7 linked regions of the Homo sapiens genome follow. The protein of the gene in region 2 purifies or fractionates together with the protein of the main gene of each other region. This does not show direct contact. Each region holds a gene or a part of one and is shown on either strand. Other genes may lie near its edges.

Region 1 (4,929 bases), on a different chromosome or scaffold from region 2:
TTCTGCTTTAATCAGATGCAAGGTTGCCTTTGTGTGTAGCAAAGATGGGGTCTCCTACCTGTTATGATTTGAGGCCCCCAGGGAAAGACCCAATTCCCTAGTCCTCACCTCCTCTGTCTGGTCTGATGGAGTGAAATGCCACCACAGATTATCCTGCACCTTAAAGGCTTTTTCAGTCCTCAAATATATCTTTTTTGTTGTTGTTTAATTTTTGATACAGAGTCTTGCTCTGTCGCCCAGGCTGGAGTGATGTGGTAAGATCTCGGCTCCCTGCAACCTCTGCCTCCTGGGTTCAAGCAATTCTTGTGCCTCAGCCTCCCAAGAAGCTCAGATTACAGGCACACTCCACAAAGCCTGGCTAATGTTTCTGTATTTTTAGTAGAGATGGGGTTGCACCATGCTGGCCAGGCTGGTCTCGAACTCCTGGCCTCAAGTAATCCACCTGCCTCTGCCTCCCAAAGTGCTCGTATTACAGGTATGAGCCACCACGCCCAGCCCAAATATATCTTTTAAAGCATAATACACTAACCCCAAAACTGAAGTAATCACTTAATGTCATTTTAACAAATTCCTAGAAATCCCAGTTTAAATGCATTTTTATGTGGAAGGCTTCCCTATTACCTCCCAGCAAAATTCGTAGTCTTTCTCTATGGAGTTAGCAGGAACTATATATAATTTTGCTTCTGTATTTCGTCTTGGTTTAATAAAACCATCTATTTACAATAAGTCACTCTCTCTGCAATCAGCATTTTGGGAAAGATGAAGTAAAGATTAATATTTATCAAGAAATAAGATTTGATATGTTGTAGTTCTCTGGGTAATCAGTTTATTCCAGTTGTCTTGGAACAATTATTGACAGTGTCTCCTCTCACTCTCAGAAGTGCAACCTGGGAGGCAGAGGTTGCAGTGAGACAAGATCGTGCCAGCGAGGGTACAACAGAGCAAGACTCTGTCTCAAAAAGAAAAAAAAAACCCAAAAGAAGTGCACAGTTCAATCCTAAGGCAGGTATAAGACTTCTCTTCCGAGACTGACCATTTTCCCCTGCTCACGGCCTCAGCTGAATTCTGCATGTGCTTCTCAAGAAGTGAAGCCCTTAGCTTAGCAGGGCAAACCCACTCATGTGTCCCTTGTGCAGGAGGAAGGATTTTTCCCTGGAATTCCGTTTCCACAGGGAGAGTGGAAAAGGGAGTCCAGACAAAAATTTGCTGGTCTGCAATGGGCCTGAGGTTAGGAGAGAAACTTTCCCCAAAGTCACACTGTGCCAAAGTAACAAAGCAAAATGAAGCGACGCACCTGCCACTACGAGGTGCAGGATGGCCTCATCGTAGGACCTGCCTTCTTGGAAGTAACAGCGGTAGGTGCCGTTTTCCTGGGCTGTGATGTTGTGTATGACCAGGGCCACGCTGCCCCTGCTGATGTCTTTGCTCACAAAGGTGGTTCTTCCTCGGTACTCCTCCATCTGCTCCTCTGTTCTCTCTCTGCCACCTTTATACACAAACACTGCGGGGGAGAACTGAGACCGGAACCACCGCACCTCCATGTCCTCAGCATTTTTCTCGGGTGACAGATGGCAGCGTAACGTAGTGTTTTCTCCAACCGTGGCCAAGATGGGATCAGTGGGCCCCACGACAATAAACTGGGCTGTTCAACAAAGGGGTAGAGTCAGACAAAGACACCAGCCATCACATCTCTAAGGCAAGAAAGGAAGCAGATATTCTAGGGACAAACTTATTTTTTCCATGGCCATAGGGTCTCTTTGGGCTGAGAAATCTGGGGACCAGTAGCTGTGGCTAGTCGACAGCACCCCTGGGAGCAGTAACTATAAAGTGTGCTTCTGCTTCATGAAGGAAACCCTGAGGAACCTGCCCTGAGCACCCTCTGTCCACCCTGTGCCCTTGAGGGGATTTTCCTCGATTTCCCAATCTAGTGCTGTGCCTGAGTGTACTGTAAACTTGAGCCGTGCAATAGGACACATATCCACTAGCTAGTTCCAACTGAAATGAGCTGTAAGTGTAAAATACACACAGGATTATGAAGATTTAAAATTTCAAAATGTTGACTATCTCATTGGTAATATGGTATATTAACTAAGTATTTAAATATTCGTATTTGATTATTTGGGGCGAAACAAAATATAGTATACAAATTTATTTCATGTTTCTTTTTACTTTTTAAAATAAAAAGTAAAATTTAATTTTTTTTGAAAATTTGCAATTGTACATGCACTCGGCCTTTGTGCCTCACTGTATTCCTTTTGGACAGTGCTGGTATAAATTCAATGAACATGTTCAGAATGAAAGGGTAAGTCAACAACTCCACAGTCCTTCTTTCTTTCCCTTTGCAGACTACAGGGTTGATGTTCCTTTCTGATAGGTGACAGCAGCAAGTGGCACACATCCCTACCTGAGACCAGTGCACACAGGCTGAGGAGGAGGAGGAGGAGGGAGGCTGGCCGGGAGAAGTGCAGGGCAGCAGCTGATTCCATGAGCACCCAGAGCAGGCAGGGACAGGAGGCCTAGGGTTACAGAGGAGAATCAGCCTAGGAGTCTTGGCACCTCAGTGCTGGTCGGGCCCAACCTCTCCCGTCACTCAAGTAGGTCTCATCAGTGCCCCAACTTCAGGGAGTCCCCTGCATCCGAAGGCTCAGGTATGTCCCGAGAGAGGGATTCCTTAAACATTCCATGAAGTAAGCCATCAATGCCAAGATCAAGGGGGCCTTTTTCCGCCCTCCTCGGCTCACTTCTCTGGCCAGAATGCAGTTTCTTCAGTTGTCGCTGGATTCTACCACACCCTCCTCCCTTCACTTCCTCCTCCCCGCGACCCAGGCCGGGCAGCCTGAGGCAAAGACAGGCGAGGCCGCGCCTCCCCACCGGTGGGCTTTCCCTGTCCCAGGACCCCGTCTCGTGTCCACAGCAGACCCCGCTTCCCCCACCTACTGTGCCCACCCCGGAGCTGTAGCGCCTCCCCTCCGTTTCCTACCTTCTAGAATTAAACGTTGCTTTTTCTTTTCTCCGCTGGTTCTCGACGATTCTCCAGTCGTCCCTCTTCTCTCCAATCTGCCCAGGGGCACAGGCACTACTAGACACAAACCTTCCCAAAAGAGGAGAAAAAATTGTTCTTCCCCTTCTCCTAGGTCGCCATGTTTGGAGATGCAGGAAACGAAATCTGGTCTCCTGGGCTTCCACAGTCCCAAGAGTTCCCTAAGTATTTTAGAGCCCAGGATTGGCCGGGTGTGAGTGAACCAGCCAATGGTGTCGAACCTTATTTCTCAGCAGTTGCTGGGTAGAATACACCGAATCACAAATTTCAAGCAGCAAATAACCTTTTGAGATTATCGGGTCTTTTTATTTCCTTTTTCTTTGTTCGAAAGCAAGACTCTCTCTCTCTCTCTTTCTCTCTCAAGACTCTCTCTCTCTCTCTCGCTTTGAGATTCCTTGGGGAGATTCCCTGGGGTTTGTCACTGAGGTCGGTGGCTTTGCTGGTGTCCACAAGGAGAGGCCTCTCTATGTAGAGGGCAATTTTGCTGGGGAGGAAACATGAGCAGGAAAACGTAAGCCGCCCCCTTTCCAAAGCCAGAGGACTCCTGTTCAAGTTGCTGGCTTTGGAGGTTGGGCCTGGAGCGCAGGAGGGCTTGGGGGAAGCTGGCATGGCTGGAGCGGGAGGGGTAGCAAAGGAAAGGAGACAGCAGTTGCAGTGGCTGTTATGAAGGCCTTGCCATTCATTCCAAAGCTATCGGATAAGAGGTGCTGAGAATCCTGACTGAGGATCAAAAACCTTTTCCCTCAGGGAGGTGGCATTCTGGTGGTGGCAGAAGATGGAATTGAGCAAAACTTTCTAGTTGTCCTTCACCTTCTAGATAGTAGGTGGTCAGGTTGGGTCCAAGAGCCACACACAGACACACACACTAGCACACATACCATCCTCCCGTAAACATCATCCCTCTCCCAAAGGCTCCAATCTTGTAATTGTAAAGATATCTTCCAGAATAATCTTCCCGAGGCCCAGTTGTCAATATTCCCCTCAAGTGTCTAAATGCTTAGTCTGGAGGCCTCCAATTCCCTTCTGATTCAATTCAAAACTTTGCAGTTAATACGCTAGCAATGGCTCCACAGTGGCCTTGCATCACAACGTTGCACTCCCTGTGGCCAGTGCTCCTTTTCCCATGCCATGGCTTTCATTTCAATTGCTTGCTCCATCTCTGCCCCGTGAAATCCTGCCCAGCCTTCGTGCCTACTTCCTCCAAGAACAACTCTGAATGTTCCTGCCTGAAGTGTTCTCGGCCTCTTCTGACACCCAAATCTTTTGCTGTTCCCACGTCCTGTCTTGTATTATTGTTACTCAGGTATCCACTGTGTCTCTGCTGTGACAGGAGTACCTGCTTCTCAGGACAGACTTCTGCAGGATGTGATTCCTCTCACCTTACAGGGCCCAGCTCTAAGCTCTAAGCTCTGCTCTTAGCTGTTGTTCAATGCATGAGTGACATGCTCAGGGTAAGGTCATTCCCACCACATCATGGCCCAGTTCCTGGAGTCATTTGGCACCAGAGTGCGAGAGAGAGGTGCTAGCAGGATTAAGCCACTCTAGGTCAGGATTTCTAGGACTGGAAAGGAGGAACCAGTAGGTTCCTTCTGCAGAGAAAGCTCTTTGATGAGAATAAGCTAAAGAAAGCTCTGAGAACTCTTTTTTCCATTGGACTGACCCTTAAACTGTCTCTTTCTCATACAGTAGTCTCACACGTCACCTGATGTTTCTGGATTATAATTCAAATAAGATTCTGGGTTGAGTGGCTTATGAGGGTAAATACATCAGTATTAGAACTGTATGTATATGAATTCCAAACAGGACTGGGCAGCTGTTGAGAAGAGGCAGAAGAGAAGGATGAAAGGGTCTAACAGCATGGCCAGCCAGGATGAGATCTGACTTTATAT
Region 2 (3,961 bases):
TCCAGGGGACCCAGGAGGTAGCTGCAGGTGTCCCAGCCCCTTGTTGGGGGGTTCCCTCAGCACATTTCAAGCATTTCTTCAGGGATGCACAACCAGGGGGTGCCTAACACTAGCCAAGGGGCAGGGCTGCACCTCTACCATAGCAGCCAGGAACCCAGTGCAGAGTGGTTCTGGAATCGGAATGGGCTGGAGGGAGCAAGTTACACAGAGGCCCCATGAGAGACCCCAGGATCCACTGAACACAGAGCCACCACTGCAGGCCAGATGGCCTGACACCTGTGGGCACGCTGACCTCCCTGTCTCCACACAGTCACCTCATCGGGCAGATGGTGTCCCATCTCAGAGATAGCTGGCCAAGGCTCAGGTGATGGGGATCGCAACCTTTCATGCCCGGCCAAGGCTGCCCCAAGAACATGGAGTAGACTCAGATTCTGTCCCCTACACTGTGCCCCCAATGGGGTCAGGCTCAGGCCACCCACCCAGACCTCCGGTCCAGTGGCATCCACCATGCAGATCCCCAGTGCCAGAACCTGCCTGCCTGGGCATTGAAGGGGAGCTGGGCCTCTAAAGGCAGAGGAACTACCAGGGTCGTGCCTGCCTCCACTCACAGGGGTCCTGGGATCCAGCAAGAAGATCCTGGATCCAACAGCCCACATGCAAAAGACACAGGTCCACAGAACTGGAGCCTGGACAAGGGCCTGGCCAGAGGCCTGGAGATAAAGCCCCTCCACCTGCTCTAGGGACCCCCCAGGACCAGCATCTGCCTCCAGCCAGACCTGACCAGGGCCTCTCGGTCCCCAGAAAACCCAGGCAGGGGTCCTAGCAAGCCCAAGGCAGCTGCAAAGGGAAAACAGAAGAGAGAGAAATCTTCCCTGTCATCCTCAAACCAATGGGTCAGGGATGGGAAGTGCCCAAGGGGCTGCGAGTAGCTAGGCAAGTCCCTCCTCCTGTCAGGCCCCTCTCCTATTGTAACACTCTCTGAGCCCCCTAAGCGCTGACATTCTGGGATTCCAGAACCTCAGTTGTTCCCTATCTGTACAATATGTACAGGGGACTCATCAGTCCCAAGAGATGCACCGTCTCTCTGAATAACATGAAACAAAACAGGAAATTCCAGAAGTAAGGTAACTTTACTCAGATAAAACACAGATGGTAGCAGATAGAGGCCACAAGCTCATGGGATGCCATTCCAGAGGGCCCCTCACCCACAGAGGAGCCCCTGTAGGAAGGAGGCCCAGGCCCCATCCGCACAGCAAGTCCCGGTGAGGGGCTCTAACACACCCCCACTCCAGCCTCTGGTCATGGACACAGCCCATAGCGGGCACAGCATCATGATGGAATGGACTCTGCAGGCCACGCATGGCTCCTGGGAACCCCCAGCCCCTCCCTTCTCCTCCCAGCCTTTCCAGCTGTCTTCCCACCAGGAGGGCTCGGAGGTCACAGCACGGAACGTCTTCCAAGAGCCCCTGCCTATCTTTCTGCCTGGATGTAGGCAGGAGCTGGGGCTGGTGCAGGAGCCAGGGCAGGAACCAGAGATGGGGTCAAGCAAGGAGTCCTAGTCCAAGCAGGGCCTAGACTGCGGCTAAGGCTAGGCTGGATTCTGTGCTAAGAAACAGCATAGAAACCTGCGGGCAGAGGCTCCGGCCCAGCCTGCGGAGCACAGGATGCAGCAGGTGATTTCTGTGCCCAGCACACAAGCTCTGGCCTTATCACATTTTCCTCCACTGGCCCTAGAATGAGCAAAGAGCTTGGGCGGATAGCCTGAGCCTCAGCCAGGGAGCAGGCTGGCCTCGAGGGAGCAGGTCAGCCCAGGAAGGGAGGGGTCTGCCCATGACCAGGTGGGGTGTGGCCACAGTAGCTGGAGATTGGCAGCACCCACCCGCTCTCCCATCCCCAGGGAACTTTCTTCCAGCTTGCCAGGTGTGACCCACTCCATCTCACCGGGACCCTCACAGCAGCGTGTCGGTGCGTTTGCTGCGCCACACCACCAGGCCAGCCATGGCGACAGTCAGAACGACGGGTATAACGATCAGCGGGATGAGAACCTCGTCTGGGGGGTCCTCCAAGTGGACCCTGTCCACGGTGCAGTTGGAGAAGAACTGCCTGTGGATGCCGGTGATGAAGCCCTGGGCCAGGGGGTTGGGCCAGTAGCAGCCCACGACATTGGCCTCCATCTCGGTGCAGTTGGTGAAACTCTCATAGTACCTGCAAAAGCAGAGGGGGTGAAAGCCAGGCTCTCGCCATCCCCCCTCACACCTGCCCTGACCTGAGGCCAGGAAGATGGGTGGGGTGGCTTGGGTACAGTCCCATTTGGCCACCTATTCACAGCCCAGCCTTGGAAAATCCCCATTCTGGCCACAGGGTCATCTGTGCCCATGACCCATTCCCTGTGTCCCCTGCCCACATTTGCATCACAATGACCATGACTTGCTGCCTTTGAGGCCATGAGCTCCCAGGATCCAGGGTCTCAGCCCAGCTTCCCTGGACCTCTAAGCACTACGCAGGTCTGCCCAGAGGACACACCAAGCCATGCTTCTCCAGGGCCAAAGGGTGCCTGGATCACAGCCGCTTGGACCTGCAAAGCCTTCATCATCCAGGATACCCTAAGAGCCTGAGAGGAGGGTCTCTCTGAGGCCAGGGGCCAGCCACCTCCTAATCAAGTCAGCCTGCCCTCATGTGCCAGGTGGTGGCCAAGTGGGAGTCAGACCTGTGAGCCCCAGTCCCTGCCTCTTCATCTCCTACTCAGAAGTTGCCTCCTTCAGCCCCATCTAGCAGGACATGTGGAGCCCCCTCCTGTGGGTCCCCCTGTCCATGAGATCAAAGATGGGAAGGGCACTCAGCAAACCACCCATGATGCTCCATGACCGCCCAGCACAGGCTCTGGACAGTCCTCATGCTGACCAAGGGCTATAGCCACCAAGACCCAGAGGTCAACTCAGCATAAAGGACTTCCCAGCCACCACCTGTTCCAATGGGCAGCCTGTGGAGGTGATGACCTCCCTGTCATTGGGGTCTGCAAGGCCTAGAGTGGCAGCCACTCATTCAGGATGTTCTAGACGAAGCTAGATGGACTCCTGCCCAGATGCCACCCCCTCTGTGCAGGGCTAGCACTTCCCCACGTCTGTGCTGCATGAGTACAGATGCAGGAGTGTGAAGGGTCCTGCCTCGGCTTCCCCATGGGAAAGTAGCCCATCTCCTCCTTCCCGCGCTGTCCCAGGAGGGAGCCACTGATCTGGCCCATCAACAGGAAAGAGCTGCCTCCTGCATGGAACATCATCTGGGCGTAGATTTCCCAAAGCATCAGAAAGGGGTAGGAAACAGGGACTCTGACCTACTCCACCCAGGGTTCTCCTGGTCTCCCAACCCCATGCCCCAGGAAGGGTCTGGGAAGCCCAGGTACAGTCACTCAGCCCAGCTCCTGACTGATCCAAGGCTGGCTCTCAGCACCTTGGAATGTAGGTCAGACACACACCTGTGCCTTTCCAGGTAGTGTCAGCAGAGAACAGCCAGAGCAAAAGAAACAGCCTCGAATCCAAGTACAAAGCTGTTGGCTCTCCTGGGCCTCAGCCACAATGCAGCACCTGAGACATGCCCAGGCATTAGAGACACCTCAACAGCTAGGTCCATGGACAAACCCTCATCTTCCCTGACCTGCTTCTCCCACAGGGCCTCAGATTCAGTAGCCTGCTGTCCACCCCAACCCCCCGCCAGCTGATCCAGGAGCTGGGGAGCCGTCTAACAACACCCTGCAACAGCCTTCACCTTCAGAAGTTCCCAGCATCTATGTGTGTGATGAGAATCACATGCGGTAACCTCTGTGCCTCCAAAGTCATTCCACTGAACTGCTACCCAGGAATGCCACCCCCCAACAACCATCCCCAGGGCTGAGATGAGCCAGACAGACCCTGGAGAAGACCCTCTGTGGACAGCGAGTCTACAGGGCAAGAGGAGTGATGTCTAG
Region 3 (4,501 bases), on a different chromosome or scaffold from region 2:
GCTGCACATGCTTAAAGCCCAGCCACCCTTTCACCCACAGAGGTCATAGACCACTGCTACTATGGTTAATTCTCAGAAGTAATAAACTCAGAACCTGAAAGCACATAATGCCTACAAGACTGTTCACTATTTCAAACTTCTGCTCTGGTTTACATGAATTAAAAAAAAAAAAAATCACTCTATTTTTTCTGCTGTACCAAGGCAAAAAAATTCTACAATCACATTTAAAGGCATGGACTAATGACTTCACAAGACATTGCAGTAGCAGTTTCAGTTGTGTTAAGAGAAGCTAAAAATTAGCAGGTTCTGTGCTAAGCACTGTATCATCTCATTTATTCTATAAAATCGCTCCATGAGGAAATCAAAACACAAAGTTTGGCCACTTACTCAAGGATGACATGCTTAGTAAATATAACATAACCAGGATTTGAACACATGCCATCTGCTTGTGCTCTTAACTGCTGAAATATTCTAGTCATTTTTCTAGTCAGGTTGCATAACTTGGTGGCCCACGGTTAAGCGTAGAGTTTCTATTAAGCCCAGTAGCAAGCCCAAAAGCTGTTTCTTAAAAGAGCAGTTACCTGCAAAGGATGGAAAGGCTTTGCTCCAAAATCCTAAGGTTCTACACTGTATCTCCTATAGGGCCTGCAAAAGGTTCCTAACAGCATTTCAATCTGCCACTGACATTTCAAGCACCAGAAGATCTGCTGGGTCATATGGCCTGAGTGGCAGAGCAGTTTGCACAGCAGCCTGTACCTGTTGTAGAGGCGCCTTTTGTTCTGGGATCCACTCAAAACTAGCAGTATTTTAGGTCACTCAGTAAACAACCTGAAGTAGCACACCCAAATGAGGAATTTGTCATCTCCAAAATCCAAAGAGGCCCACTAAACCTTGCTTCTCTTTTTGTTATAGGTGGGAACATGCCCTACACTACTCCAGTGGACCCCTAGAAATTTCACAGGTGGAAGGCCCCTGAATATTTGTTGGATTTCCCACCCTCTGACATGCAAATGTCATACCAGTAAGTCTAGAGTAGTTGTTTCTTCTTGCCCACCAGGTCCAATCAGCATAATGTCATCAATGTGATGGGCCAGTATGATGTTTTGTGGAAGGGAAGCACAATCAGGGTCTCTATTTGTTTGCTACAGCTGCTGTAATAGAGAACCACAAACTGAGGAGCTTACAAAACAGAAATGTACTGTCTCCAGCTCTGGGGTTAGAAGTCCAAGATCAAGGTGTCAGTAGGGTTTGTTCCTTCAAAGGGGGTGAAGAAGAATCTGTTTCATGCCTACCCCCTTGCTCCTGATGGTTTGCTGGAAATGTGTGACATTTCTTGGTGTTCCTCTACTTCAGTTTCATATGGCATTCTCCCTGTGTGAATGTCTGTGTTCAAATTCCTCCTGTTTATAAGGACACCAGTTGTGTTGGATTAGGGGCCCAGCCTACTCCAGTATGACCTCATCTTATCTAATTACATTTTTAACTACCCTATTCCCAAATAAGGTCATACCCTGAGGTACTAAGGGCTAGGAATCCAATACATAAATTTTTAGAAGACACAATTCAACTCATAACAAGATCACAGAGATCTTGTTATGACATAGTGTTGGAAAGTTGACATTCCCGAGGTAGGACAGTGAAGGTGTATTTTTGGCTTTGTTAGTTGAAAGAAAACTGCTTTTGGTGATCTTTACTAACAGATACTAAGACAAAGCACTCAGCAGATCAATAACTGCATGCCAGTTACTAGGGGATAGGTTCTCAAGTAATGAAATGACATCTGGAACAGCAGCTGCAATTAGTCACTACTCAGTTAAGTTTATGATAATCCACTGTCATTTTCCAAGATCAATCTGTTTTCTGCACAGGCCAAACAGGAGGGTTGAATGCGAATATGTCAGGAATCATCACCCCTGCATCCTTAAGTGCACTCATCTCTGCAATTCCTCCTGGAATGCGGTATTGCTTTTGGCTTACTATTATTCCAGGAAGAGGCAGCTCTAGTGGCTTCTACTTGGCCTTTCCTACCACGATCGCCCTCACTCCACAAGTCGGGGAACCAGTGTGGGGATTCTGCCAGTTGCTGAGTATGTCTATACCAGTTATGCATCCTGGAACTGGCAAAGTAACCATAGGATGAATATGGGGACCCACTGTGAGGAGAACCTGGGTTAAACTTCCATTGACCACCTAACCTCAACAAGTCCCTACTCTGAATGGCGGGCCAAAATGACACTTTGAGTGTCCTGGAATTAGTGTCAGTTCAGACTTAAGAGTTCAGTAATCTGTGAGAAGTCTAATTATTTCCTCTTCTCCAGTGCACACTTACCCTGATAAGCCATAGGTCCCTTTGGGAAACCTGAGAAAAAAATTAACGGTATAAATTCTTAGCAGCGCAATGGGGTCCTTCCTCAAAAGGATCCAGCCTCCCCTCAGTCAGGGGGTTCTGAGTCTGTAAAATGACTCAAATCTGGGAACTGATTGAGGGACCATGACTCTTTCTTTGGTAATTAAAGTAAAGCTTCCATTCACTTGACCTAGAACTCTTCTGCTTATAGAGATCAAGTCAGAATTCAGTAGACTGCCCAACGAGTTCTCTTCTAGGGACACCATGACCACCTACCCAATTAGGACCCCCAAGTCAGGCTGTTCAGATTGTTGCTTTGACTCCGCTGTCCCCCATGATGGCAACACACCTACTTACTCTTTGGTGATCACATAGCCCCTGCCATCCTAGATCCAACCATCCCTGCTGCAGCTAAGGACCCCCAGTCAGTGGCAACAGCTCCCACTGCAATCTCTGACCTGAAGAGAAAAGCAACCCCAGAGCTCTTCACGGATTCCTGAGGAAAACCGGCAATGTCTTGCAAGGTAACTACCTCAAGGGAGGTCATTACAGGTTCTTCAGGCAAAGCAGAGTTAACCTCCTCAGAGGTGGAAGAACTGCTTCTACTGGCAAAAAAGAGTGAGTCAAATTTAGGAGTTTAACATCCCCAGCTTCATCAGGATGTTCCCATATGGCCCTATTCCAAATGTGCAGATCCCATTCCTTCCCAATCAATGCCCTCATTTTAATAGCAGACCAAGGTGAGAAGGGAATTCAGTTAGCACTGTAATTCAGCCACCTACAGGATAAGACTCTGGATTTGGTTTTCACCAACCTCAGCTCTGTAGCTACAAGAGATACGGGTTTCTTTAGGGCAGACACAGAAACTTTTCAGGTCACTTATGTGGAGCTTCAATCGGGAATTTGAAGCCTTAAGCTCCCCTTTTCTTTCCTTTCTTTTTTTTTTTTTTGAGACAGTCTCACTCTGTCACTCAGGTTGGAGTGCAGTGGTGCAATCTCGGCTCACTGCAACCTCCGCCTCCTGGGTTCAAGCGATTCTCCTGCCTCAGCCTCCTGAGTAGCTGGGATCATCCTTTTCTTTTCTCACTTTACCCAGTACAGTTAAAAGCAACCAGCCTATCTTATTGTACTCATTAATTCGATTAAAATGTTCTAAGGTATCAAATACCTGATCATTCTGAATCTTGTCTATAAGCATGAGTGGGAGTATCTAATAGTGATCTTTTGCATATCTTTGTTGCCATATCACACCAGGGACTATCAGTGCCCTCTTTTCTACAGGGAATACTCATTACTGCCTTTGAATCTGATCAGTTTGGAAAACCAATTCCAGAAACACTATAATCAATTCAGAAAACTCATCCTTAAGATTCTGCTCACTAGAAGCACTCTCAGCACCCAAATTTGAATCAGTCAGGGCTCTACAGAGATACAGAACTGATAGGAAAAAATATATAGATGTAGATAAAAACATAAATATCTTCATCTACATATAGACAGATACAGAGATATTGGTATTTTAAGGAACTGGCTCACACAACTGTAGGGGATAGCAACTTCAAAATGTGTAGGGTAGATCTACAGACAGGAAACTTAGGCAGGAATTGATGCTGCAGTCTTGAGGAAAATACTGTCTTCTTCAGGACACTTCAGTTTTGGCTTTTTTAGCCTTCAATTGATTGAATGAGGTCCACCCACATTATTTAGGGTAATATCCTTTAGTTTAGGTCAACTGATTATAGATGTTAACCACGTCTTCAGAATACCATCATAGCATCAACCAAACTAGTATCTGATTAAATAACTAGGTATTATAGCCTAGCTAAGCTGACATAATAAAACTAATCATCACACACAGTATTACTCAACAAAATCTTATTTTCAACTGAAGGAAAAACCTTTTAAACAATAATATTTTATTTGTTCCAGAAAGACAATGAAATTTCAGTAGGAACACTTTCCTGAGTGGAACAGAGGAAAAGTCCTTCATCCAAAACTATTTGGAGGAACAAAGCTTCCATGAACCACCTCTCTTCACAGAACACTATCTTAGGAAACTATAACATTGTTTCTACATTTTTAAAACAATCTCTATGTTTCAAAAATATGATCTTCAACTCTACAACAGAAATCACACTTTAAAATTATACCTCT
Region 4 (4,501 bases), on a different chromosome or scaffold from region 2:
TATCATTTTTCACCATTCTCAAGAACCATTTGGGTACATTTGGATATCAAAACTTCATGTGCAGACATGTGCTGGAAACCTATAGCTTTGTAAGAGATCCAGGATAATGGAATAGGTCAGTTTTACTATCTTCTCAAATACATTGACTGAACAGATGCCGATGGCTAGTTATTGTCATTTTCACCTGCAAATATTATCCACTGTTCTGGCATAAAGCCTCTCTAACACAGATAGGGCTCATGCTTCTTGAATGTGCCCATGGGAAAACAAGGAGGAATGAATCCCTTTCCCTACTTAGAGAAAACTCAAAACATCATTAGCAAAAAGAAAATGCAAGGCTTCCTTCTCAGGCTCTTGCTGGCCAGGATCACACTGTTCCAAGGAAGGGGAAAAGTAAAGAAGATATCAACCTACTCTCCAGATTGGAAGGGCAATGTGTCATTAAAAAAACAGAAGTGCTTGAAAACCAAATGGGCCTGAAACCACATATTAACTAAAATCTCAGTGTTCAATATGTATTGGTGAATAAAAGAAATAAAATATTGGCTGGGCTCGGTGGCTCATGCCTGTAATCCCAGCACTTTTGGAGGCCGAGGTGGGCAGATCACGAGGTCAGGAGATCGAGACCATCCTGGCTAACACGGTGAAACCCCGTCTCTACCAAAAATACAAAAAATTAGCCGGGCGTGGTGGCGGGCACCTGTAGTCCCAGCTACTCCGGAGGCTGAGGAAGGAGAATGGCGTGAACCCGGGAGGCAGAGCTTGCAGTGAGCAGAGATCGCGCCACTGCACTCCAGCCTGGGCAACAAGTGAGACTCTGTCTCAAAAGAAAAAAAAAAAGAAACAAAATACATGTTTTATCTAAAAGCAAACATTTTTAAGAAATCAGTTAAGAAAGAGGGCCATCGACTTGCATATAAAGTAAATGAAAAGCTCTAAAAGCTCCATATTTCTTTTTTTTTTTTTTTTTTCCGTATTTCATCTCGAGCACAGTTTAGAGACACTCAACAGCAGGTATTTACCACAGGTGTGTAAATATCATGTCACTGAGAAACGTTTAAAACTCCTCTTGGGGCCAGGCACAGTGGCTCACACTTGTGAAATTCCAGCACTTTGGGAGGCCAAGGTGGGAGATCACTTGAGGTCAGGAGTTTGAGACCAGCCTGGGCAACAAAGTGAGACTCCTGTCTCCACAAAAAATGAAATAATTGGCCCAGCATGGTGGCACACGCCTGTAGTCCCAGCTACTCAGGAGACTGAGGCGGGAGGACTGCTCAAACCCAGGAGTTTGAGGCTTCAGTGAGCTATGATCCCATTACTGCACTGAGGCCTAGGTGACAGAGTGGGACGCTGTCTCTTAGAAAAAAAAATCACTTGCTAGCTCTATCCCTAAGGCATGTATATTTTGAAAAATTCCCTGCAGTTCAAATACGTACTCTAAAGCCAGGGTCCCCAACAACCCGGCTGCTGACCACTAGTGGTCCGTGGCCTGTTAGGAACTGGGCCACACAGCAGGAGGTGAGCAGTGGGAGAGCATTACCACCAGAGCTCTGCCTCCTGTCAGATCAGTGGCTGCATAAGATTCTCACATGAATGCAAACCCTACTGTGAGATGCACATGTGAGGGATCTAGGTGGCACGCTCCTTATGAGAATCTAATGCCTGATGATCTGAGGTGGAACAGTTTCATCCCATAACCATCTGCCCCCCTGCAACCCCGACCTGTGGAAAAATTGTCTTGCACAAAACCAGTCCCTGGTACCAAAAAGGTTGGTGACTGCTGCTCTAAAGCAATCCATCAAGGTGATCCAAGTAAAACAGTGGCCTTTAAACTTTAGTAGAGCTGAGATCCACTGAGATCCTTAAACTTTAGTAGAGCTGAGACATCCTCCACGCAGAAACATTAACAACTATTAACATTAATTTCTTTTCTTTTTTTTTTTTTTTGAGATGAGTTCTCGCTCTGTCACCCAGGCTGGAGTGCAGTGGCACAATCTCGTCTCACTGCAACCTCTGCCTCTTGGGTTCAGGCGATTCTCCTGCCTCAGCTTCCTGAGTAGCTGGGGCCACAGGCATGCACCACCACGCCTGGCTAATTTTTGTATTTTCAGTAGAGATGGGATTTCACTATGTTGGCCAGGCTGGTCTCCAGCTCCTGACTGCCTTGGCCTCCCAAAGTGCTAGGATTATAGACTTGAGCCGCTGTGCCCGGCCAACGTTAACATTTTTAACAACTATCCGTGGTGATTTTTGATGCATGTGGGTAGAGGGACAGAATTCTGGAACACTGTTAAGTACAACACCAGATATATAAAACAGTAATCAATACTTACTGTGAAGAATATTAAGTGCACTGACTTGACATCTATTAATCTGATGTTGCCATTAACTAAAAGCACTTCATAAATAACCAGGCTTCAAAACCTGGGATTACCAGTAGAGTAACTACAGTCAACTATAATCTATAGTACATTTCAAAATAGCTAGTGGAGAACAATTCAAATATACCTAGCATAAAGATAAATGTTTAAGGTGATAGATATTCAGTTCCTCAGATTTCATTATTACACATTATGTGAATGCATCATGTACACTGAAAACACGTGCATCTATTAAGTATCAGTTTTTTAAAACCGTGATTAACTAGAAGAAAGAAAGCAGTGTTTATCTTTACCTCCTTTCTGAAGTCTCCTTCTTTTTGTGGTCTTATGCTATCCAACCAATCAGCTTTTATACCATCAAAATAACTCTGGACCCTGGATTTCAGTGATTCATATTGCCAAATAGCAGCTGATCCAAATGCACAGCCTGTAAACTATATAAAATTAGATATATTACAAAATAGATTTAAGAGGGAAATAGATCTATACATTATTTCCAAGGAGAATTCTTCACTGTCATTGCTTTTTACAAACCAACAGAAGGGAATACTTGGCACAGTGAAACCTAATAAGTGAAAAGGGCTTTTTTTTTTCTTTTTGAGATGGAGTTTCACTCTTGTCTCCCAGGCCAGACTGTAATGGTGCGATATGGGCTCACTGCAACCTCTGCCTGCCAGGTTCAAGTGATTCTCCTGTCTCAGCCTCTGGAGTAGCTAGGATTACAGGTACCTGCCTCCAGGCCCGGCTAATTTTTGTATTTTTAGTAGAGACGGGGTTTCATCATGTTGGCCAGAGGGGTCTCGAACTCCTGACCTCAGGTGATCCACCCACCTTGGCCTCCAGTGCTGGGATTACAGGCATGAGCCACTGTGCCTGGCCAAAAAGGACATTTTATTGTTTCCCATTGTATTAACTTCACAATACCCTGGGGCCTGTTTCCAGCTATAAATCCTCAAATAAAACTGAAAATACCAACTTAGCACCGCTTGAAATGCTGTACCAAACAAGGCCCATATGTTTATTCTCTAGGGCTTACATAAGTAAGCCAGAATTTAATAATAAAAGCAATTTTTAAGTTCAGACTCTAGGCCGGGCGCAGTGGCTCACTCCTGTAATCCCAGAACTTTGGGAGGCCAAGGCGGGCGGATCATGAGGTCAGGAGATCGAGACCATCCTGGCTAACAAGGTGAAACCCCGTCTCTACTAAAAATACAAAAAATTAGCCAGGCGTGGTGGCCAGTGCCTACAGTCCCAGCTACTTGGGAAGCTGAGGCAGGAGAATGGTGTGAACCCAGGAGGTGGAGCTTGCAGTGAGCCGAGATCGCGCCACTGCACTCCAACCTGGGCGACAGAGTGAGACTCCGTCTCAAAAAAAAAAAAAAAAATTCAGACTCTATAATTAGAATTCATGAGCCCAGCTCTTTTTGATCCCCCCTCTACCTGTCCTTACTTTAAGGGAGCCCAAATGGGACAAAGTACTTTAACACTGCATTTCTAGCAAGGTAGGTAACTCCTAGCAAAGTGAGCTCTTACCCCAACAGTAAAAAATAAAGGTTTTATGAGACTCCTTATAGGATAGGGAGAAGGATAAAAGACTGTTTCTTCCACAGGAGGAATCAAAGCACTTCTCTTGTATGCTTCACCACTTGTCCCTGGGTCTGATCTTCGAGGTTCAACCTTCCTGGGTGCTTTTCTGAATCCGCATTTTTGTTGAATAAAGAAGTTAAACCTATGGGGCAAAAATAACAGATGAGAAACACAGTAGCGTCTTGCAAATATCAACTTCTATGAACCTCCACTTGGCCTGCATCATCACCATCTCAATTTATTCTCACTCTACAGTCCAAAAACAGCCAAGACTCCTACTCTCAGACAGAATTCAAAGCCACAAAATTCAACCTTTCTGGAAAAGGTGACACACAAACTACAGCAACTTCAGAGGATACTACTTTGGGCTATTACTTTCTATCAGTCAACAAAATAATTTGTATCCATTCTCCACACAGAAAGAATCTGAAGACCTGGTAAAAAGCTAGAGAACTCTATAAATTGTCCGTTTCTTTTTTTTTTTTTGAGACAGGGTCTCCCTCCGTCGCCCAGGCTAGAGTACGATTACTCCC
Region 5 (3,433 bases), on a different chromosome or scaffold from region 2:
CTTGAAAGACACAAGGGGAGGCTGAAGAAACAACTACCTATCCACTGCCTACCCATCTGTTCACAACATGGGACAAAGAGCCGTGCACCTCTCCTGAGTTCTAAGCAGCAGTTACCAAACCCAGGGACAAAAACGTTCACTCCAGCTCTGCCCACTGTGAGAAACACATCAGACAATCGCAACTGAGGAACGTCCTACAAAACATGAGACCAATCCTCAAAACTGCCAGAGCCCTCAAAACAAGGGAGGTCTGAGGAACTGTCACCCCAGAGGAGCCTAAGAAGATGGGCGATCAAACGCCATGTGGACTCCCAAGACCGGAAAGGACACTGGGGAGACTCAGCACATCTGAATCACGTGTGGACCCAACACCGCGGGTCGGCGGGGGCTCCTCAGGTGGGAGGACTGCCCCATGGGGGCCTCCACGGGAGCGAGGCAGGGTGGCAGGGAGCTCTCTGCACCGCGCCTGCAACTTTTCTACATCTAACACTATAATCAGCGTGGGGCTGTGGCTCACGCCTGTAATCCCAACACTTGGGGAGGCCGAGGCAGGCGGATCACCTGAGGTCAGGAGTTCAAGACCAGCCTGGCCAATGTGGTAAAACCCCACCTCTACTAAAAATACAAAAATTAGCTGGGCATGGTGACGCGTGCCTGTAATCCCAGACACTTGGGAGGCTGAGACAGGAGAATGCTTGAACTGGGGAGGTGGAGGTGGCAGTAAGCTGAGATTGCACCACTGCACTCCAGCCTCGTGACAGAGAGAGACTCCATCTCAAAAAAAAAAAAAAAAGAAAAGCCGAGTGTGTTGGTGCATGCCTGCAGTCGCAGCTACTCGGGAGGCTGAGGCAGGAGAATCACTGGAACCCGGGAGGCAGAGGTTGCAGTGAGCCAAGATGTCGCCATCGCACTCCAGCCTGGGTGACAGAGCAAGACTTTGTCTCAAAAAAAAAAAGAAAAAAAAATTCCTACTCTAAAATTAAAGCTTTGTTTTAAAAAAATGTTCAAGAAAAAAGTGTAAGACTTGGGAAAAGATTAAACAAAACTGACAAAACATTGGTAATTGCTAATGGCAGGAAGAGGCACAGGAGACTGTGGCAGCCTTCTTTCTACCTCGGGGGAACACACTTGACGAGTTCAGGATAAAAAGTATGGAACACGTAAGTTTCAGTTGAGCTGGGTAGAATTCACATCGGTCAGAGTGTTCTCTGTACTCTGTGTGCCTTGGAAATACTTCACGAGAGGGGTGGGGACCGTGGGTGCTGTGTGGACACTGTGTGACGCCGTAGCCCCCACGCCTGGCCAGGGCCTCACCGCCTGCAACTTGTCCAGGTTGTCCTGCAGCACCTTCTCGGTGTGTCTGTAGGCCTTGGCCACCAGCAGTCTTGCTTCCTGTGAGTGGAGGGAACTGTGTCAGGGGCAAGGCTGGCCGCCTGGCTCCAGCACCAAAGCACAGAAAAGAAATGGCAGACTGGGAACACGGCCTTTCCCCTCCCAGGAGGAACAGGACTCCTCAGCCGACAGGTGGTCTCCTGCCCCTGTGACCAGTGCCAGGAAAGCAGGGCTCCGCATGCCAGCCCACCCACCCACACCCACCCACAGCTGCCTCACAGGCACACATCGGCCCTTCCTGGCCCAGTCTGAAGGACATGTGGGCCCTGGGTCTATTGCTCGGTGTATTTATTTGATATTCTTCCCAGATTCACATCTATAATTTCATTAGGAGCATCTATGTCCTCATTTGAGAAGAAAATACTCCACAGGTGGGAACTACAGCAGAGCCCAGAAGGAAGAAACCCAGGTGGGGCCTGCAGCTGAGCTCCGCTGGGGCGGCCGTGGGCGACCCTTGTGTGGTAGACCCAGGGACTCCCTCCCCGGGGAGCACAGAGGGCAGCGGTGTGGCCAGAGCCGACTCACATGGTCCATCATCTGCTGCAGGCCTTGGCTGAAGGGGCGCCGCCCGATGCCCATGAGGCCCTCCTGCGCCTCAGGGAAGGAGATGGGCCCGATGCCAGGTGCCATCCCAAACTGCTTCACCATGGAGTAGGCGATGCGGGTGACCTTCCTCAGGTCGTCCTGTGCCCCTGGAGGGCGGGGTCGAGACAGAGGCATCCTCAGCACTGCAGGCGCAGAGCAGTGCTGGGCCCCAGGTGTCCCGGTCAGAGCACTGAGGCAGCACCACCTCCATCCCCTTCCTCCCGAGGACCCACCGTGAAGCTGGACAGTGAGGACGTTGGCACCTCACCACTGTTCCTTAAGAGAGTCTTAAAACTTTCCGAAATGCTCTTTTATTTGGAAATCTAGAACCCGGGGGCATACTGGAGCTCACTGCATGGCAGTTCTCAAGCACAAGCCCAGGCCTATGCGAGGCAAACCCATGGACCTGGAGCCCAGGGGCCCCCGGGACCCTCCTTCAGCTCTCTGGATATCCCAGTGCAGTAATGGCTTCAGAACAATGAAGCCGCTTCAATTTTATTCCGTTTCCTGTAGCCATTACCAACAATTAACCAATTAAATGTGTCTAGAGTTGGCATATAGGTTAAGTTTTTGTCCAATTAAATTATCTAAGAAGTCTTGCTTAGCTCCAACTCTCTTATGACCACAACTTATCTTTTACAAAATACTTAATAAATTCAAAGCTACGTCTACACCAGATTCACCCCATGGCATGCACTGGAACAGAAGGAGTCATGCAGGGAAAAGCGCTCTGAAACCTCCAGGGCCCGCGCCGCTGCTCCTCACCAGAAGTGACCTCGTTGAAGGACAGTGCTTCCGAGGCCCGTCCTCCCAGGGCCATGCACATCCGCTCAAACAGCTGCTCCTTGGTGAAGAGGTGCTGGTCTCTGGGGAGCATCTGAGCAAAGCCCAGGGCGGCGTTTGTCCGAGGGGTTATGGAGACCTGGCACAAGGTCAAGATGACCCAGGTCAGTAGGCAGGATGCGTGGGCTTTGAGGAGGAAGGTGTGGGACTAAGAGGTCTCCGTCATTAAAGCGTCTCAAAGCAGGAAGGCAAATGTGCAGCATCCTCTACAACAACAGGGGATCCTAACACTCTAGATGGCCAGCCCAGAGACAGCAGCGTTCCCACCACAGGTGCCTGTTCACACACTGCCGGGAAGTGTCTTCTCATACATGACTAGACAGGCAGGGAGTCAAGAAGACAAGGCCCGTAGAAGACAGCTGAGAGGCGAAGGACAAGTTTCACCCCCGATGGCCGCTGCGCTGACCCCTCACACCAGCGACAGCTACTGAGGGTTCAGAGCAATGAGAACCCCACGATGCTGAGGCAGCAGAGGCTGTCCTCACCTCTGCTGCTCCCCCACAGCCCCACATCAGGTGTGCAAGGAGGTGGCGCGGGGCAACGAGCTAACTCGACAACACGGAACCGCTGAGTGGGAGACGGACGGAGACGGGGCAGGGGCTGGCCCAGCTGC
Region 6 (4,501 bases), on a different chromosome or scaffold from region 2:
GGGAGGCTGAGGCGGGCGGATCACGAGGTCAGGACATTGAGACCATCCTGGCTAAGACGGCAAAACCCCTTCTCTACTACAAAAAAAAAAAAAAATTAGCTGGGTGTGGTGGCGCCCGTAGTCCCAGCTACTCAGGAGGCTGAGGAGAATGGCGTGATGGCGTGAACCCGGGAGGCGGAGCTTGCAGTGAGCCGAGATCCCACCACTGCACTCCAGCCAGGAGGACAGAGCGAGACTTCATCTCAAAAAAAAAGAATTTTTATCATCTTTAAAAAATGTTAAATTGCTCTCCTTGGTTGTTAGGACTAGAAGGGACTTTAAAGGTGTTTTTTATTTTTAGGAACAGGGTCTCACCTTGTTGCCCAGGCTGGAGTGTAGTGGCACAGTCATAGCTCACTACAGCTTTAAACTCCTGAGCTCAAGCCATCCTCCTACCTCAGTCTCCTGAGTAGCTCAGGACTACAGGCCTGAGCCATGGCACCCGGCTTGAGGTAGTTATTTTATAGAAGAGGATGCCACAGCTCAGAGAGTTTAAGTTATTAGCTCAAGATGACTTAGTTGGTTAGATACAGAATGGTTCGTATTATGAAGGTCTTCTATTTATTTATTTTTTGAGACGAAGTTTCGCTGTTGTTGGCCCAGGCTGGAGTGTAATGGTATAATCTCAGCTGACCGCAACCTCTGCCTCCTGGGTTCAAGCAATTCTCCTGCCTCAGCCTCCTGAGTAACTGGGATTACGGGCATGCCACCACGCCCAGCTAATTTTGTATTTTTAGTAGAGATGGGGTTTCTCCATGTTGGTCAGGCTGGTCTCGAACTCCTGACCTCAGGTGATACTCCCGCCTTGGCCTACCAAAGTGATGGGATTACAGGCGTGAGCCACCGCGCCTGGCCTATGAAGGTCTTCTAATTCCCGGTTGTTGTTTTTTATTTTTTTCTCATAGAATTAATTTACAGACTTTAAAAGCTTCTTTATTGATTAACATTGATAGATATGATACCCAAATGTTACCTATTTTTCTTATTTGGCTACAAAATCAAAAAAATACTATATAAATCTTTCAAAATGTTAAATGTTAAAAAGGTCTCAGAGTAAATGTGGAGACTCTTTGCAGAAAAAAATGTATGTGTTTTATAGAGAAAGTTGATTAGTTTCAGTTTTCCTGGTTATCGGATGACTGTGATTTAGACATTTGTGAGCACTTTCCTGGGAGTGGCCACTCTGGTATCCTTGAAAGGCACTCCCGGCGCAGTGCTTGAAGACCACAAGGCGCCTTACCCAGGCAGTGGGTGAGGGTGCTTGGAAGAAATGCTTTCCAGTTAATGACTGTTAGCATGAGAACCATTTGTTCTAGTAATAAGCAGTCATTCAGTATTCAACGCTTCTCTTTAGAACATTCACTGACTGTAGGGTCTGCTATGGACGGTGTCTGTATTTCTGAGAGGGGCTGGTGTTATCAGTGTTCATAAGGATATTATTCAGAATTTTATTGCCTGTTTTGACTCCACATAATCAATTTTTTCCCTACTGATTTAAAGAAATAATACAATCTTTTTTAAATCAATAATATTTAAGAGTTTTATTTTTATTTATCTATTTATTTTTTGAGATGGAGTTTCTCTCTTGTTGCCCAGGCTGGAGTCCAATGGCGTGATCTCAGCTCACTGCAACCTCTGCCTCCCGAGTTCAAGTGATTCTCCTGCCTCAGCCTCCCGAGTAGCTGGGATTACAGGCGCCCACCATCACACCCAGCTAATTTTTATATTTTTAGTAGAGACAGGGTTTCACCATGTTGGCCAGGCTGGTCTCAAATTCCTGACTTCAGGTGATCTGCCTGCCTTGGCCTTCTACAATGCTGGGATTACAGGCATGAGCCACCGTACCCAGCCGACTGCATATTTAAATTGGTAAGGTAGAAAATGAGCATGAGAGTCTAACAGCTGATGGATATGGGAACATAATACTTGATAAAATCATTCAGAATATGTTTGATAAACAAGAAGATTGTATAAAACCTGCACTGTCCTACTAATGTAAAGCATTTCTCCTCCCTCACTTTATTCTCAACCTTACAACTGCCAGAAATTATATAATCTTGAATATATTTGAGAAACTCTTTTTAAAATGAATCTTGTAACTAATTTCTTTTTTGAATTTATATATATAAATATATACATACTTATTTTATAATAGAGACAGGGTCTTAAAATGTTGACCATTGAACTCCTGGGTTCAAGCGATCTTCTCGCCTCGGCCTCTCAAAGGGCTGGTACAGCGTGAGCCACCGTGCCCGGCCATTGTAACTAATTTCACAGGGCAGATAATCATCCTTTAAACTGTTTGAAAAGATTTGAGTGTTACTGTTTCTGGTTTTCACACTTTTCCATCTTTTCTAGGATCCACGTAGGTGGAGGAGATTCCTCTCCACAGTTTGTTAAGCTACATTCTATGTTGTTAAGGTCTCCCAGCCCTTCTGGACTGGCACTAGAGGCTGTTGGGGGTGAAAAAGTACAGCTGTTTGTGTGTCATACTGCCTCTGGTTCAGAAAAGAGACGGACACTGACTCTTCACTATTAATTTTGCCAAAGTCTCCTTGAAAGAATGCTAATTTGTTCCTGGCACTGGGCAGGGTTCCTGCCTTCCAAGTCTTGTCATGTGGTGGTTACTTGGCTGGGGTAATAGTGAGGCACCCCCTCCCCACCCCCACGTATGGTCCCCACCGGGCAGCTTCCTATGCCAGTCACTGATATTTGTTCTCATGTTGTTTGCCCCAACAGTAGGGATGGCATTGAGCCCACTAAGTTGACTGACCTTTTGAAGAAAGTTAAACTTTATGGTGTTATTTTGAGTAGGCAGTCTGTGGTGCAGAATTTGTAGGCAGCAAAGGGTATTCTGTGAAGTTTCCTTTCTCCCGCCTGCCTCTCCCCAGGGACAGCCTCATGCCACACTGTGGTTCTCATGAGCACTGCTGTCTGTGTGGAAGGACCTGACCTGTCCTACCAAAGTCAGACATCTTTTTGATTTGTTGTCTTTGGCAGAAGCTCCTTTGTATTAAGGTCTCCATAGGGCCAGCTTGGGGCTTCTCTGTAAAGACTTTGCTGAGGTTTTGAGAGTTCCTGGGACTTGGGATTTACGGGCAACACTCTCTGCCCCTGGGTCTCTGATGTGGAGAGGATGTCTGCCATTGACACCGAACCCCTGAGTGGGCAACTCTCAGAGCCATATCTCCACAGTCCATGCCTGGCTAGTCCTGTGGTTTCAGTGGTCTACAAGACATTCCTAGGTGCATGCCCTTCAGTCCACACAAACTGACTTTGTCTCAAATCTGAATTCTCTCATTCTACTCTTACCACCCTCCTTCAGTTTCTTTCTTCTGCGATAAAATCCCAGATGACTCGGTTACTCAGGCTTGAAATCTCCTATTCCTTTGTTCCCGTGCCCAGGGCAGGATGCAGATTCTAACCAGGTGTGACTTGGAATCCTTATCTGTTTGTTGTTTGTTGTCTGTTTGTTGCTCTTGGAGACTTCAACATTTCAGGACTGCAGTATTGTAAATGCCTGCAGTATCCTAAATCCGAATTCCTTACCTCTCCTGGAATCCTTATCTGTCTTTTACTCTTTGAGATTTCCCAAATTTCAGGATTTATTGCTTGCCTTATTGTAAACCCTGTGAATTGAGCTCCCTCCTGTTAGGATTTGCTCTAGGTCCCTCCTAATCCATCTTGTTCTTTGTATCTTTCAGGAGTTCTGAAACTGCCCTAATAATTATTGGGGGGGTGGGGTGGAGTGATAGAATTCTGGCTCTTTTTCATAATGCTTAAACTTTAAGATCCTTTGTAGTCTTCTGTCTCTCATTTCCTTCCAATTCTTGTTTTAGGTTCAGGGGATACATGTGCAGGTTTGGTACACGGGCAAATTGCACATTGCTGAGGTTTGGTGTACAAATGATTTTGTCACCTAGGTAGTGAGCATAGTACTAGATGGGTAGTTTTTCAATCCTCACCAGCCTCCCACTCTCCACCCTCAAGCCCTGGTGTCTCTTGTTCCCCTCTTTGTGTCCATGTGTAGCTCCCAGTTCACTCTGCAAGTGAGAACATGTAGTGTTTGGTTTTCTCTTCTTGCATTAATTTGCTTAGGATAATGACCCCTAGCTGCATCCATGTTGCCACAAAGGATATGATTTTATTCTTTTTTATGTAGCCTTCTCTCTTAACTGGCCTTTCTCCCTGCTTGGTGCCTCTGTGTCATGGATCTTGATTCTTGCTCTTTCCTACCTCTGAAATGTGTTCTTTCTGTCACCCTCCCTCATTTCTACCCTTTTTTTTTTTTTGAGATGGAGTCTCGCCCTGTCGCCCAGGCTGGAGTGCAGTAGCGTGATCTCGGCTCACTGCAGCCTCCGCCTCCCAGGTTCAAGCAATTCTCCTGCCTCAGCCTCCCTAGTAGCTGGGACAACAGGTGCTTGCTACCACACTTGGCTAATTTTTGTATTTTTAGTAGAGT
Region 7 (3,582 bases), on a different chromosome or scaffold from region 2:
GAGATGCAACTAGTGCTGGCTTCGGTAAGACTGATGTAATGGTGGTAGCTTTTCCTTTCTTTATCAGTGAGAAAAAGGAATCAAACAGGTACTAGAAAAAAATACAACCAACTAGTTAGAAGCTTCAAAATTCCTAAGTTCACCAGATAAAACACAATATACCCAGTTAAATTTGAACTTCAGATAAGCAACAAATAATTTTTATTATAGCATTTCAGCTTTTTTTGCTTTTTTGTCAATAACTAAATATCTGTTAGTGTGAGAATTTAATCAAATAAACACTTCTGTTCACTTCAAGTCTTATAAAAAAGAAGTTTCCAACAAGCAGTAAACATATCAGATACCTTCTGAGAATGCCAAGTTTTTAGTAAATTGTATATCATTTGTTTCTTCTAAATCAAATTCTAGGTGGATATAACAATTGAAGCTATATCACTTATGATATAGAAAATTAGAAATACTAATTTAAATTTAAATTTCTATCGGCTCTAAAAAACAGTTTCTGAAGATTATTCTTAATCTTTGCCAAAGGATTTACTTCTGTTGTTTCACTAGATATGACAAATTACAACAAAGAATATTCATTTTGCAATTATTGGAAAGACAAAAAAGGAGAATTATGTGACAGTGGATATTATTACATCTTAATTGCAATGTTCCTAATCCGAAGTACTAATATATGCTAATTTAAATTTTAAATTAAAAAACTACTTAGCATGTGTTAGATGATACACATAACTAAATTTGATTTATGAGTTTCATCATGGGTTGGTAATATAATACTGATTTTGGCTATTAAGAACCAATATTTCCTAATAATATTAAAACAAGAACAAAATATAAATATCTAAAACGGCAATTCAGACATGAGAGAGTAGAGCAGAGCTTGCAGAAAGAAAGCTCTTATTCTCTTCCCCATTTTACCTCGAAGTCTTTTCTGAGAGTTCTGACAATGAAGATTTGCTACTGGAGGCCCCTGGGTGTGGGGAAGTCACAATAGACTTCAGATTTTTCTGGATATCACCAGAAGAATTTATTTGGAAAGATGGGTTTGAACAATGAACTAAGAGCTCACACACAAAAAAGTAAAAATATTTAGATTAAATACAAAACTCCTCTAAGCATTCCTTGTGGTTCTTTTCTGAAGCCGTCTGAATCATCTATGTATGTGCATGCATGCCCTCTCTCCCCTCCAACACCCTTCCCCTCCTTCTCCTGCTGCTGTTTATTCTCCCTTAGTGGCTACACAACCAGTTGCCATAGGGATTTTTGTGAAGTCACAGATGGGGGATTAAAATTTCATTTCAGTCATGAGAACGAGAGAGAGCAAAAGGGAATTCATTTGCATAGTACAACAATTGTAAATTTCAGAACTAAATATATTAGAATGATAATGGGTTTAAATAAAAATACCATCGCTTCGGGTTTCTTAAGGGCTTTCCCACTTTAAATTTTAAAAAAGATAAAAATTTCCTCTGTGACATTCATGGGGAGATTTTAATACAAAATGTGTGTTACCAAAGCACTCTTCTTGAGAATGTTCTGCTCAAGATCATCTGGGGTGATTATTTTGGTTTCTCGAATTTCCACACAAATACATTTTTTTTTTGCATACATAATAGGCCTCATCTTTTTGACGTACCTCAGTGTCTATTGGCCCCGGGGTGACCTCTGGGTGGAACTGCACAGCGAAGAAGGGTTTGCTCTCATGCATAATCCCCTAAAGGAATAAGAAACAGGAAGAAATTCCTTCTGTAACAATGAATGTCAAGTGTGGCTATGTATTATTCAGGGAACAATAAAGCTCAAATTTAAAAACTGAGTTAGATGCTTAACAAAATTTTTGTAACTAACAGTACTATTAAGTAACATGGTCCGATATCTTAAGGACTTACATATCTGACCTTTTTGATTAAGTATGGAAAATGGGTCAATGAAGACTCAACTGAATGTGTTTTCCTTTAAAATAAATAAATAAATAAAAAATTTGGTCTATAGTCTTTGGGACCCCTCTGGGTTCTGTTCAGAGTAAACTCAAGTCCTCATCTTATCCCCAAGTCCGAAATTACTTTTCCAAGGGTCTTCTCAAACACTACACCAGTGCCAAGTAAGTCCCAGAGACCCACCCAGATGGGGCTCAAACAGATTTGGACCAACAGCCCACTAACATTGAATATATGAGATAGTTGTTGATTAATAACTCAAATAGTGAATCTTAACAAGTCAACTGATGAGAGAATAAGAGAGAGAAATGACGTTTTAAAACACAGAGGGCTATGGGAGAAAACCTATAGCTGTTTTTCAACACTCAACCCCAAAAAAATCACAAACAAACAGGAGAAAGGTATTTGCATCATAGTGTATTTAAAAACTCTGGGTGAATATTCTGAGTGAATAATTTATTGCATATTTCAAAACAGCTAGAAGAGAAGATTTGAAATGTTCTCAATACAAAGAAATAAAAAATGAGGTGATGGTTATCCTAGTGTGATTTGATCATTACATATGATATGCATGTATCAAAATATCACATGTATCTCATAAATATATACAATGCTTATGTATCAATTATTTTTAAAAGCCCTGCGTTTCTCATCACCAACTGAACAGGTTTATTGACATCATTTACCTCATTTGTTTGATCGTTGACATTCACAAAAAGTGGTTTCCAGCCAGCAGGGAGGGTGTTGTCCAAGGCATAGCCATGATTCTGAGCAGTAATGAAAGCCTGTTTGTTTGTGATATTCAAAACAGGCTGATTCTGCCCTCTGGAGAGAAAAGGAGAAAAAGAATAGGGAAAAGGAAAAGTGAAGAGAATAATATAAATGTATTCCTTATAAAGTAGTGAACAAGTAAAGCCTATTAAAATTCAAAATTTCAATTGCTTAGTGAAAATCACTCTGTGAGAAAAGTCACAGATTGTTAATCCCAGTAATTTTCCCAACAAAAATCAATTCAGGAAGCTTTGTTGTGTGTTAAATACGCAGGTCTATTAAATTCTATAATCGGTTTTAGAAAGGGGGGCATTGCACTCATAACAAAAAGGGTTGCTCACCGGCTTAACAGAAACTAAGAAATATAAGTGACTTACTTTAAGAGAACTACAATAATTTTAAAGCCCGAGAGTTATAGGGAGATAACAAAGAGATGACTGCTCAGACCTGAATTATAATTTATGTAGAGGGTGGGCCATGGGAAAAAGCCTGATGTTTAATAAATTAATATTGTTTGAGGCAAAAAAGAGAAACCAAGAGGATCTAAAGGTTCCTCGGCTCTTAAGTCACACTTACCTTCTTAAAATGTTACAATGTTCTGAAATCAAGCTTAAAATCAGAACAATTTCCCTTGGAATATCATTTGATTGAGTATTATAACCTCAATTTATGCCAAGGGAAGGAAAATAACTTTAAATTATAGCAAGGTTATCATTAGAGAAGGCTGCTTTCCAAAAATGCAACAAAAGTGGTATCAGGTAGTCAAACAACTGTCAACCACGTAAGGTATGGTTATTTATTTTATTTTTTATTTTATTTATTTATTTATTTATTTATTTATTTTTATTATACTTTAAGTTTTAGGGTA

Evidence for each region.
Region 1: the proteins of RAMP3 (region 2) and BTN2A1 purify together in Homo sapiens (co-immunoprecipitation; 2 studies listed by BioGRID and IntAct, with this or other methods). This does not show direct contact.
Region 3: the proteins of RAMP3 (region 2) and FAM210A purify together in Homo sapiens (affinity purification with mass spectrometry; one large-scale study listed by BioGRID and IntAct). This does not show direct contact.
Region 4: the proteins of RAMP3 (region 2) and PARL purify together in Homo sapiens (co-immunoprecipitation; 2 studies listed by BioGRID and IntAct, with this or other methods). This does not show direct contact.
Region 5: the proteins of RAMP3 (region 2) and SPG7 purify together in Homo sapiens (affinity purification with mass spectrometry; one large-scale study listed by BioGRID and IntAct). This does not show direct contact.
Region 6: the proteins of RAMP3 (region 2) and CDS2 purify together in Homo sapiens (affinity purification with mass spectrometry; one large-scale study listed by BioGRID and IntAct). This does not show direct contact.
Region 7: the proteins of RAMP3 (region 2) and CPS1 purify together in Homo sapiens (co-immunoprecipitation; 2 studies listed by BioGRID and IntAct, with this or other methods). This does not show direct contact.

What each region holds. Positions count from the first base shown.
Region 1 is NC_000006.12:26,456,194-26,461,122, reverse strand, and holds the start of BTN2A1 (butyrophilin subfamily 2 member A1 isoform 1 precursor), read right to left. Parts: upstream 3,169-4,929; 5' UTR 2,981-3,168; intron 2,517-2,980; 5' UTR 2,487-2,516; coding exon 2,405-2,486; intron 1,643-2,404; coding exon 1,295-1,642; intron 1-1,294.
Region 2 is NC_000007.14:45,181,401-45,185,361, reverse strand, and holds the end of RAMP3 (receptor activity-modifying protein 3 precursor), read right to left. Parts: intron 2,206-3,961; coding exon 1,950-2,205; 3' UTR 1,112-1,949; downstream 1-1,111. UniProt on the Homo sapiens protein: Accessory protein that interacts with and modulates the function of G-protein coupled receptors including calcitonin gene-related peptide type 1 receptor (CALCRL), calcitonin receptor (CALCR) and G-protein coupled estrogen receptor 1 (GPER1).
Region 3 is NC_000018.10:13,719,567-13,724,067, forward strand, and holds part of FAM210A (protein FAM210A), read right to left. Parts: intron 1-4,501. UniProt on the Homo sapiens protein: May play a role in the structure and strength of both muscle and bone.
Region 4 is NC_000003.12:183,863,951-183,868,451, forward strand, and holds part of PARL (presenilin-associated rhomboid-like protein, mitochondrial isoform 1 precursor), read right to left. Parts: intron 4,111-4,501; coding exon 3,915-4,110; intron 2,816-3,914; coding exon 2,675-2,815; intron 1-2,674. UniProt on the Homo sapiens protein: Required for the control of apoptosis during postnatal growth. Essential for proteolytic processing of an antiapoptotic form of OPA1 which prevents the release of mitochondrial cytochrome c in response to intrinsic apoptotic signals.
Region 5 is NC_000016.10:89,552,445-89,555,877, reverse strand, and holds part of SPG7 (mitochondrial inner membrane m-AAA protease component paraplegin isoform 1 precursor), read right to left. Parts: intron 2,900-3,433; coding exon 2,743-2,899; intron 2,085-2,742; coding exon 1,918-2,084; intron 1,393-1,917; coding exon 1,315-1,392; intron 1-1,314. UniProt on the Homo sapiens protein: Catalytic component of the m-AAA protease, a protease that plays a key role in proteostasis of inner mitochondrial membrane proteins, and which is essential for axonal and neuron development.
Region 6 is NC_000020.11:5,132,931-5,137,431, forward strand, and holds part of CDS2 (phosphatidate cytidylyltransferase 2), read left to right. Parts: intron 1-4,501. UniProt on the Homo sapiens protein: Catalyzes the conversion of phosphatidic acid (PA) to CDP-diacylglycerol (CDP-DAG), an essential intermediate in the synthesis of phosphatidylglycerol, cardiolipin and phosphatidylinositol.
Region 7 is NC_000002.12:210,591,017-210,594,598, reverse strand, and holds part of CPS1 (carbamoyl-phosphate synthase [ammonia], mitochondrial isoform b precursor), read right to left. Parts: intron 2,769-3,582; coding exon 2,630-2,768; intron 1,721-2,629; coding exon 1,643-1,720; intron 1,245-1,642; exon of another isoform or gene 925-1,244; intron 92-924; coding exon 1-91. UniProt on the Homo sapiens protein: Involved in the urea cycle of ureotelic animals where the enzyme plays an important role in removing excess ammonia from the cell.